Regions from separate parts of the Homo sapiens genome. Here region 1 is linked to region 2. The links come from fine-mapping of genetic effects on gene expression. A gene starts in region 2. The other region holds a variant in brackets. All regions are shown on one strand. Distances are between the middles of the regions. Region 1 holds the start of TMEM72 (transmembrane protein 72). Region 2 holds the start of LINC02881 (long intergenic non-protein coding RNA 2881).

Region 1 (5,372 bases), 620 kb after region 2:
GTTCAACTTAGGATGGTGTGAAAATGATGTACATTCAGTAGAAATTGTACTTTAAATTTTGGATTTTGATGTTTTCCTGGGCTAGCAACATGCCCTACAATATATTCTTACATGAGCTACTCCACACTTTATAACATAAACCTTGTGTTAGATGATTTTGCCCAACCATAAACTAAGTGTTCTGAGCACATTTAAGTAGGCCAGGCTAAGCTCTGATGTTCAGTAGGTTGGTTGGATTAAGTGCATTTTTAACTTAAAATATTTTCAATGTCTGATGGGTTTTTTGGGACATAACCCCATCATAAGTTGAGGAGCATGTGTATTGGGTTTGCTTGGAGTTTTTTTCCTTATTTGGTTGTTTTGTTTTCTATCTTATATGAGCAAAGGGGTAAAAGATTTCAGAAAAACACCTGAGAGATAAATCTTAATACCATTCAATCTAGCACATCCGTTAGTAAATTAAGAATGAGGGAAAGCCCACCACTGTCCAAGTGTAAAGGCTGGGCTCCTTGAAACAGCTACAGGGACACTCCAAGTACATCAAAAACACCAATTCAGCCAAAACTTCACATTTATTTTCTGCAAAAGTTACCAAGGCTCACAGATGCCTTTGGGTTTCCCCAAGGTCACCCGGTTAATTATTGACATAGCAACTCCCCTCGCAAAACAAAGAATCAAAATGATTTCCCACGTCCCATGTTGGGATGCATGTTAATGAGGAAGGAAGGCCTCTGCGTGGCGGGGCCTGAGCTAAGTATGTCTAGTCAGAGTCCAAATCCGGGACAGATTTGAAAAGCTTTCTAATCCACCTATACGCAGAAGAATAAAGCTTGGAACTCATTTCAAAAGTTGTTTCTACTGGTGATTTAAAGACACACTCCTCTCTCCCATATGCACATAAGCACAGACCTGCAAGAGCACTGTCCCCTCCAGAGCCAGACACTACAGGCCCCCAGCAAGTGTGAAATCCAGGTGTGACTTTCTAGGCATGGCTTGGTGAGGAAGGGCCTGGCCCACTCCTTGGCTCCCTCCTCCCAGCCAGAAACGGTTAATTGCCAGCTCCAGACTGCCTCCAGCCCAGCCCTAATCGCCGATCTCAGGCGGCTGGGCTGCGCTGGGGCTGAGCGGCTCCAGCCCAGGCTGGGGTTGTGTGAGCAGCAGGAGCATTCTTCCAAGGTAATGATTAAGCTGAGTGCCTGGCAAGGGCACGGGCTGAGAGCACAGAAGGTGAGCCCTATTCACACCTCGGCCAGGCTGCGGTGGCCAGGACTGGTTTGGGAAGGCAGGGCCCCGGTGTGCAGCCACAGCCAGCAGCCTCCTACCTACACAAGGGTGTTCGGGAGCATCTCAGGGCCGAAGACTTTGCTGCCTGCCCTGCCAGGACTTTGTCCTCACCCCTGGCACCATGCAGCTCCAGGTGTTCTGGACTGGGCTGGAATACACCTGCCGGCTCCTGGGCATCACCACTGCTGCAGGTAAGACCCTGCCTCCTGGCTGCTGATCCTTGCACACTGGCACCACAGATAGGGCTGCCTGAGGGGTGGGAGGTGGCCAGGAGACAGCAGGCACATCTGGCCACTTCTGTGCTTCAATTTTTTTCCCAAGACCCCTAGAAACACTGCTCTGTAGAGCAGCAGCAAGTGCAGTGGGGTGAGCCTAGGGCTGGGGACCAGAGGGCTGGGTGCTGGATCTTTGCTTGGCAAGTCACCCTCCCTGTGACCTTGGGAAGCCTCAAGATCCTCATCTGCAAAATGATTCCAGGGGCCACCCCACCTACGCAGAGAGTTGTCATGAGATGGAGGTGGAGACAGAAGGTGAAGATAGAAAGGGCTGGGCTTCGCTGTGTATCTACAAAAGGTCAACTGAGCTCATCCTGCTTTACTCAAACCATAGCCCTACCTCATGGAGAGAGAACTCCCAGTCATGAGCAGCTCTGCCCTGGAGGGACAGGCTGAGCCTGGCTGGACGTGGAGATCACAGGCTTCCCTCGGGCCCATGCTGGACCCTGTTAACAGAACACCCTGTAGGAACCCAGACCCCTGTCTGAGGTCTGACTGCAGGAATGCACTGTGGTCTTAGCAGCAGAGATGCTTCCCAGAGATGCTGGGCTCCTTCCTTCACCCAGCAGAATCACAGGGCTGCTCAACTGGACAGGAGGGCAGACTGTTAGAGCAGAGCCCAGAGCCACCATCCTGAGCCCTGCCTGCTCGCTTCCCCAGGGCAGGCCTGACCCTTAGCCCCATTCCCCCTACAGAGCCAGGATCTGTTTTGGGGAAATGAACAGGCAGAATTCTGAGCCCTTAACTCTGAGCCACATTGTCCCTTGGGGACAAAGAGAGACACACCCCCTATCAAAGCCCTTCCCCACCACTGGGCAAAAGCTTACCCACGGGTCTTACCAAATGGGAAAGTTCTCCTAGGTCAAAATCACATAGTGCTTGTTCCTGCCCCAGCCTAGTCACTTGCGTGATATATGACCTTGGGGAGCCCCTGACCCCTCTGAGGCTGCACTTTCTGATCTGTATGATGGGGACCTGCTGGCCAGGTGTTTGGACAGATTAAGGATGCAGGAACTGAGCATGGCTAAGTGGAACTGAGGATGAAAACCTCTCAGCAGAAGCCCCCATGACACACTCCAGAGCTCAATGGGAAGCTGGGTCATTTCAGGAGCACTGGGCTGGGTTCAGCCGTGAGCTGGCCAGTGGGCTCTTCCAGCATCTAGGCCATGAGTTAGATCATGAAGGGCTGCTGGATGGTTTAACCCCACCCCTCCTGCTACAG[G/A]ATGGGGCACCTGAGCTCAAATGCAGGTGGTGACCTTGCCCAAGGTCATGGTCAGAGGGACAGCCAGCCCGGAGCCCTGGTCCTTCAACTTTCACAAAGGCCAGGGCTCTGGCCAAAACCTTCCCTGTCTTCCAGAGTAGGCAGCAGGAAGAGGTTCAGAATTGCTCTGCTGAGGCTCTGAGTGGAGGCACTGAGGGAGGAGCCAGATCCAGCCACTTTCAGAACCACGTTGTCGTCTACACATAAGAGAATGATGGCCAAGACCCCCAACAAGCAAAAAAGCCATCCTGGGGAGAGGAAGGCCACCCTAAATAGGTTTCCATGTCTGTTGATCTGAGTCCACCCTGCTCCCTCTAGGCTTTGGTTTCCAAATCTGTAAAATGCCAAGAATCCCACAGTTCCCCCAGCCACACTCCACCCAGAGCTGAGGCCCACCTCCCGTCGAGAGGCTGTTCTAAGATGTATGTACCTATCCTTCTAATGGATTAGCTAGAGACAGTTTAACAGTCTGATTTATCTCAGTCACCGGAAGAGTCTGCAGCCCCTGACACTCCCATGTGCACGCACACACACACACACACACACACACAAACCCGTGCGCGCGCACATAGGGCTCGTCTTAACCACAGCCTTTATCTCCGCACAGGGACTGCTGTTAATGCTGAGAATGGGCCTCCCTCTTGGTTTTGATAGGAGATTCAGACTAAAAATAGCCATGAGCTCCCTTCTAATGGCCAGGCTTTCAAATGATCTTGCTCGGGCTTTCTAGAGTGCTGGGAGGGAGTGGGAGGCTAGAGAGAGGGGTTTGGTGTTCTTGGGCAAATCTCGAGTTTCTTCCAGCATCACTGAACTCCTGGCCTATTTCCAGTACATAGGATTTGCAAATTCCTTATTCTCCTAAGCCTCTCTTTTGTTGAAATCTTCTGTTGAGAAATCCAGGCTTCATTTACAAGGGCACTGCTGCTAGAGAGGAAATAAGACCGGAAATAGAGGGCCTCACTTTGCAGAAACCCTAGGGAGGTGGGGAGTGTGGATTTCTTAAAAGCTAGGAAGACATGTGACCCAAGGGCACTCAGAGTGTCACCTGCAGGGACCAGGCAGCTGCTAAGAGGCTACAGCCTCTCATTAGCAGCCTCTTCCCTGGACCCCCTGCAGACAGGATCAGGGCTGTCAAAAGCACTGACGGCACCTGGTGGGTGCCTCTGCCAGCATGTCAAGGCCCTATGACTGTGGATGAAGCCACAGCCTTTGGATGAAGCCTCCTTAGGATTCCTCGAAGTCCCGCAGACCATTCTTGCCCCACCTCAGTGTCCAGCCCCATATCATGAGGGGTTGTAGAGCACAGACGGATCATTGCCACCACCAAATTGGGATAAACAGGCCTCAGGTAGTTGCACCTGGGTGGAAGTGTTTCTAAAATTAGAAAATTCCCTCCCTCTGGAGCAGTCATGTGGTTTCCAGGACATAACAGACCACTCCCGCATTGTTTACACCGGGTTCATTTGCTTCACCTCCCTGGCTCAGGATGTGGGGTTGGGGGGCAGGCGCCCATGGGTCCATGTGCATGCATGCGCCCGTGTGATGTCTAAGTGCCTCAGTTGCTGAGACGCGGCATCCATTGCCGCCCATGGAAGCAGACACAGCTGGGAAATGGCACACAGGCTGTGAGCACTCCACATTCCCCTGTGCGGATGCCGGAGCTCCTGCCTGTCCATCCCTCAAAGCAGGTTCTCCCCGTGTCCACTAGAGACAGGGTAAAGATGTCCTGAGTGTGAGACTCAGGCCCCAGAGGAGGCTCAGCCCTGTGACAGGTTCTCAGCACAGACCAAATGGCAGGAAAGGGGTCCTGGGAAATGGATTTAACTGAGCCTGGAGCACAGCGGTCCAGGGCACTCCTCCCCTGTGAGATGAGAAAGGACCTGTCCCACAGCATTGGTCCCAGTTGCAGGCTAGGAAAGCAGGGTTGGCTTCCCTTTGAACTTCAGCCATCCTCTTACCCTTTAACCTCAGGGGAATCTTGAATAACTCCTTTGCCACTCCCCAGCCCCTGCTGAGGTGGCCAGGAAGAGCATGGGAAGAGCCCCCTTTGTGGGACAGAGGAGGCACCTCTCAGGCCGTCCAGGCTGGGCATGGAGGGAAGGGGAGACATGTCCCTGAGCCCCGCCTTGTAGTGAAAGCCCTCCCCTCAGGCTGTGTCCTCACACACAGATGTGCATGGGCTTCCCCATAAGAGGCTTGCTCAGAAAATGTCTCTGGGCACTTGAGCAAGGCCTCCCAATTTCCCTCAGAGCAAAGAGGCTCCAGCTTGAGGCCCCACTGCCCCATCTCCAGGGCTGAATTTCACTCTTCCAGCCTCTGCCCAGAGCAGAGGTTGCTGAGAATGAACATGATTATTTGAGTATTTACTCAAATAATACTCAAAGCCCAAGCTTTGCACTGTGTATTTTAAATGCAGTATCGCATTTCATCCTCCTGTCATTGGGAGCATCATCATGTTCATCCTCATACCCACTGTACAGGAAGGGAAACCGAGGCCTGATGGAGCGAAGCATCTTGCTCAGGGTCTCACACCAGGAAGCAAGAAGACAAAG
Region 2 (5,372 bases):
TTTGTCTCTTAACGTAGATGTCCAGGAATTTGCTTCTCCCTGGCGCCTGCATTCAGTTAAATAACATTTTAGTGAAACAGACTTGACCATCAGGAAATGGCCTCTCTCTGGTGCTTTTTTATCACTTTTGTTTTATTTATTTTATTTATCACTTTTAGAGAGACAATGTGATAATTGCCAAACCAGCACCTAATGTTCCTAGTGGGTGGGGAGCCCTTTCCTGCCCCACTCATGCCTGTCTAACTACCTGCAGCACTAAGAGTCAATGTTATAGCTAATATGTATAATTAAAACTACTTGCTATAGGAAAAACCTCTATTATAGAGCATATAAAGGAAGTAAGATGCAAAGAAAGTTGAAAAGAGAAAGTGATTTTTTTCTTTTACATGACTGAGGACTTTGTGGTCAAAACAATAAAGAAGAGAGAAAATCACATTTTTATAGAATCCCAATGCAAAAAGAGAAAGTATAAGACAAAACTGGAGGTTTAAGTAAGTTGTAGGTTTGTGAAAGATGAATCTTGCGAAAAGAATTTTGTGTGTGAGCAAGTTGGCTAAAATTATACGAGAATTATTTCAAGTTTTTCTAAAGATTGAGCATTAATATGAAAAGCACACTAATGCAAGGCCAGAGTCCTGGCTCCTATGTTTGAACAATAGGGTTTTCCCTATAATTTTAACAGAAAATTATAAAAGATTATAAGAGGTTTATGGAAAGCTTATCTTGCATGGTCAAAACTGATTCAGACTGGATGGATTTATTTATAAGTCTTTATTAAACTTAGCTTTAGCATTAATAATATACTGACACAAATGTAGAATATGCTTTCCTCTTTTGAACAAGATTTTAATGTAGTATTAATAAGGATAGTAAAAGGCTTTTGTTCAACTTTTGAGTAAACTGCAAAAAAAGATCTTTATTAGGTCTTTTGATTATTTAGATAACTGAGTCTTCTCTCTCAAAGAGTAAAGGTTGTTTGAAATTTTTGAATTATTGCTTTGGTTAAATGAATGACTATTATTTACAGTGAACTGTGATCCTAATTTGATCAAGTGTTTTAAACCTTTAATATTTGATATACTACCCAAAGTCAAATTTCAGTTTCTAAAATTAAATCTTTTCCAAAAGTAACCTCTAGAAATCTAAGAAAGATATATTTAGCTTATTTGGTATGTTAAAATCATATGGGAAGCATTGTCAAATCTCAAATAAATAATGGAGTTTAATTTTTTAGTCATATTTTTCTGAATATGTTATTATTTTGATATATCATGATATATGTTGTCAAGCATAATTATGATTTATCCTTGGTAAAAACGGGGAAACGGGAGAGAAAAATTGCATTTCAGAAGACAAGTACAGTATGCCTGTTATCAGATTCTAGTCTTGCCCATTGTTTTTGAGTTTTTATTATTTTCCTACAATTTGGACTAAATCCTGAATTCTTTCTTGGCTGCAAGTCTTCAAACTAATGCTTTTGAACTTTTCTCTCATTTTTCTCACTTGGAATCACTAGAATTTAAAACTGCTTTTCTTGAAGCCCTGCAAACTAAAGTTAGACAACTTGATATAAACTTCAGGAGGAGTCAGCACAGCAACTCACATGTACACAGCCTTTGTGCCTGCTGATGTATGGGCTACTCAGGAAGTTCACATGAACACGTAATTCAAACTATAATCCAGGAAAATCTGTAAGATTACCACTACAATCTGAAGATACTTCTGAGACTCTAGAAAAACTAGTTTATTATGGACTATTCCAGACATTAAGAAAAACCTTTGTTTTTCTTTGTTTCCATAGAAATGCCTCTTATTAAAGACCAGCTTGCCTGCATCAGCTGTAGAAGCCCAGCCCCTCTGTAGTGCCACCTCCTAGAATGGACACAGCTGTTTGACCAAATGCTTCTACTCTTAGGACTAAGAGACTGATTCAAGAAGATATGGGACAACATATTTATTTATTTTTCTTTTCTGCTTATCCCAATTTGTTTTTTCCCCTTCTTTGCCTTCTTTTCCTCTAACCCAAATCTCTCCATAATCACTGATTCAGCTGTTGATAATGTGAAATTCTAGGGAAGTTCCAAACAGGAGGATTGAAGGAGCGCAGGGAACTTGGCCCCAAAATATGGCTCCCTGGTATGAGTATTTTCAATTAAAGTCCCTCAAGATCAACAGAAGCTGGAAGAGTCCTCTCCCTTATCTACATGAAGACCCTGCAGACCCACCAAAGAGAACAATTACTTTTCCTTCTCCTCCCTCTTATCTCATTATCTATTGCAGAAAAGAAAACCAACACGTGACCACACCTGAACAGACGCTTTCAAAAAAATAATCCATTTCTCCAGCTTATTAAATTTTCAAAGAGAACCATTTACGAATAACTCTCTGTTTCTTGACCCATTCATTCTCCTTAATAATAATTTATTGCCCCTCAACAGAATCACCTACATTCCGCCTTCCACCCTCCTCTCTGAAAAAACGCTGTATAAGTATCTGGACCTCATGGGATATTGGGTAATCACCTTATTTTTCCCGTGTACACGTTAATAAATTTGTATGCATTTCTCTTATTAATCTGCATTGTACACTTAAAAAGTATTAAAAGAGTGAAATTTATGTTATGAATATTTTATCACAATAAAACAATATTTTAAAAAACTGACAAAAATTCTTTTTAATTTCTTTCAAGTGAGGAATTACCAACTACTTAACAGGGTGCTTAGAATGGGGGATTTTACCAGATAAGTGGCATGCTTTTTACAATTAACAATTGCTGTTATTTACTGAGTATCCACTTTCTCTGCCAGCTCCTGCGTTAAGCACTTTACATATACTAATTCAAATCCTTAAAAAAGAAAATAAAGAAGAGAAAAGGAAAGAAAAATAAGAACATGTAAGGCTATAAGGTGCCTCATCTTTGCCAAATTCTACAGACTGGCCAGGAGACTGCAGGCCACTGCAGCTTCCTAAGGCCACTCAGGACAAGGCCAGTCCGCAATTTGTTTCACTGTGAGACGGCTGCGCGGTCAGAGCCCAGACACGGTCATCAGACTCCCGGACTTGGATTCAGCTCCACATGGTGTCACCCTGGGTAAAGGATGTACATCTCTGCGTGCCTGGGTTTGTATGGATGGCAGCATGGATGCTCAGGCAACTGACCCGTCAGGACTGCAGCAAATGAACAGAAGCTGGGGGAGAGCGCGGGCTGGTGCTGTACGGAGCTCTGGCGCAGAAGGCGCTCACCAGGGGTGCCCAGAGCCGGGGTCTGTGCGCCGCGGGTTGGATCCGGGTCACAGGCTCTGGGTGGACAGAGTGAGAAGACAAAATGAGGATGTACTCCTCAGATGCTCACGAAAGGCCTCCTTCCCCTTCTTTGGGAACGACCCCCCCCCACCCCCTCCCCCCAACAGGCAGTCCCAGGCCGCGCCAGGACTCGGCCGCAGGCAACTCGGAGGAGCGGGAGCCCAGGGGCCTCAGGAGGGCCTCGGGAGTGGGGAGGTGAAGGGGGCGTCGGGAGGGCCGCGGGTGGGAGGCGGGATAGGGAGGCGGGGAGACTCGGAGCGGGGTTGGGGAGGCGAAGAATGGAGGTGGGGAGGTGGGGAGGGGGGCTTCGGGAGGGCCGCGGGTGGGAGGGGGATGGGGAAGCGAGAAGGGGGGGCGGGGAGGGGGGCCTCGGGAGGACCGCGGGTGGGAGGTGGGTGGGGAGGGGGGCCTGGGGAAGGATGGAGCCCGCTGAAGGCAGGCGATGACGCAGGCCCAGTGTACTTCTCCTGGGGGCTCCTTTCTAGGCCCACGGAAGCTCCGTGTTGGTTTCTTTGTACCCATATCACACTCACTGTATTTCTTCTTTCCTTTCCTCTCCCAGCAGCTGTAAGCGCCCTACAGTTTGCATGGGAAGGCAACAGGGACTTCCCTTTTGCACTGTCTGCGGGTACCGCTGTTCCAGCCCTGAGAGGACGAGGGGACGCTGCGCTGTGGGGAAAGTCCGGGTGGCAGGAGGTGGCGGGGCTCCTGGAGGAGGTGCTGGGATGCGCTGCTGTGGCTGCAGAGAAAGGTCCCGAGGACGCAACCCGTCCCTTCCCCCGAACTGCGAAGGAGCCCCGCGGGGAGGACGGGCAGGGTCTCCCGGAGGGAGGAACAGGGGAGCCTGGAGTCTCAGGGTTGCGGGGAGCAGAGGCGTTCTGGGTGGTGAACGTCCCCAGCCTGCCCTCCCTGCTCACTGCGAGGTCGCGCACCGGCTCTGCTCCAGGCCTTCCCTCAGCCCTGGCCTCCAGGCAGTTTCCATTTTTGCCAGGTGGATTCTGTACGGCTTCATTTATTCAGAATCTGGATCAACAAATGAACACTCAGAGAGGAAAAGGGTGTTTGGAGGGGTGGAGAGGTTTCCAAGCAGGTGCCCACCTGAGGGCCCCCTGAAAGGGGACTTAAAGCCGAGTTTCCAGCTGGGCCACCCTTTTTTTTTCTTTCTTTCTTTCAGAAATATAAACAAAGAGCTTGAATTATTTTGAAATAACTGTTGGTAGCTGGACTGTGTTCTCTTGACCGCAACATTGCTCTGGGACTGAATCGCGTGGGTCTCTGCTCTTCCTAAGTGTTACATAAGAATAGCGAACCCATGAGGTCAGCTTCTAAACCAGTTTCTTCCCATAACCTCCTGGACCAAGTCCCAAGCAAGGCCCAGAGGAGCTCAAGGACCCACTCTCCCCGGGACACTCCTCGCTCTCTAGTTGGAAGGAGGAAATGAATGTCCCCCAGTAATTGAAGGCTGCTCATGTTTGTGTAGAAAAGCCAAGCACAGGCCCATATTCTAGAGGGTTGCTTGCGGCAGGCGGAAGGCCATCGAAGGCAAAACGAAACAAATGAAAAGGCATCTTTTGAAGCTAATGGAACAGATCAGGTGGTCAAAAATGGATAAACAATGGCATTTGGAGCAAAACTTTCAGCTTCTTCGTTTTAGTTCGACAGCCCCAGGAGGGCATGGAAGCTTCTCGCCCTCCTCATATGTCTTGCCCCAGGCATCTCTGTGTCTCTCTCCTCTGTAACATCCTTTATAGTAAATGTAAGTAGGCCTTTCCCTGAGCTCTGTGAGCTGCTCTAGCGAATTATTCAAGTGTTAGGAGGCGTCCTGGGAACATTGATTCGTGGGAACGCCAGTGGGTCAGAAGCACAGGTAAGACCACCTTGCCATTGGCATTGGAAGTGGAGGGCAGGCTTGGGACATGAGGCTTGGGCTTGTGGGGTGTGAGGCCACCTCCAGGTAGAAGGTGTCGATGTTGGAATTGTCCGATGTAGAACTGCCTTCTTGCTTGTGGTGGGGAGAAAACCCACACATTTGGTCACAGAAGTCTTCTGTGTTGATTGTTGTTGAGTGA

The links. PIP is the estimated chance that this variant, and not a neighbour inherited with it, causes the effect.
Region 1: its variant is fine-mapped to the expression of LINC02881 in prefrontal cortex (GTEx, PIP 0.97).

What each region holds. Positions count from the first base shown.
Region 1 is chr10:44,910,108-44,915,479 of GRCh38, forward strand. It overlaps TMEM72 (transmembrane protein 72), which reads left to right and starts at 1,230. Exons shown (of 5, transcript NM_001123376.3): 1 at 1,230-1,475. The coding sequence starts at 1,406. The region is part of intron 2 of TMEM72-AS1 (TMEM72 antisense RNA 1); the gene reads right to left. The variant G/A (reference allele first, on the strand shown) is at 2,782.
Region 2 is chr10:44,289,436-44,294,807 of GRCh38, forward strand. LINC02881 (long intergenic non-protein coding RNA 2881) reads left to right here and starts at 3,315. Exons shown (of 3, transcript NR_164139.1): 1 at 3,315-3,498; 2 at 3,866-4,054; 3 at 4,478-5,214. It overlaps LOC124902544 (a long non-coding RNA gene), which reads right to left. Exons shown (of 3, transcript XR_007062369.1): 3 at 4,479-5,372.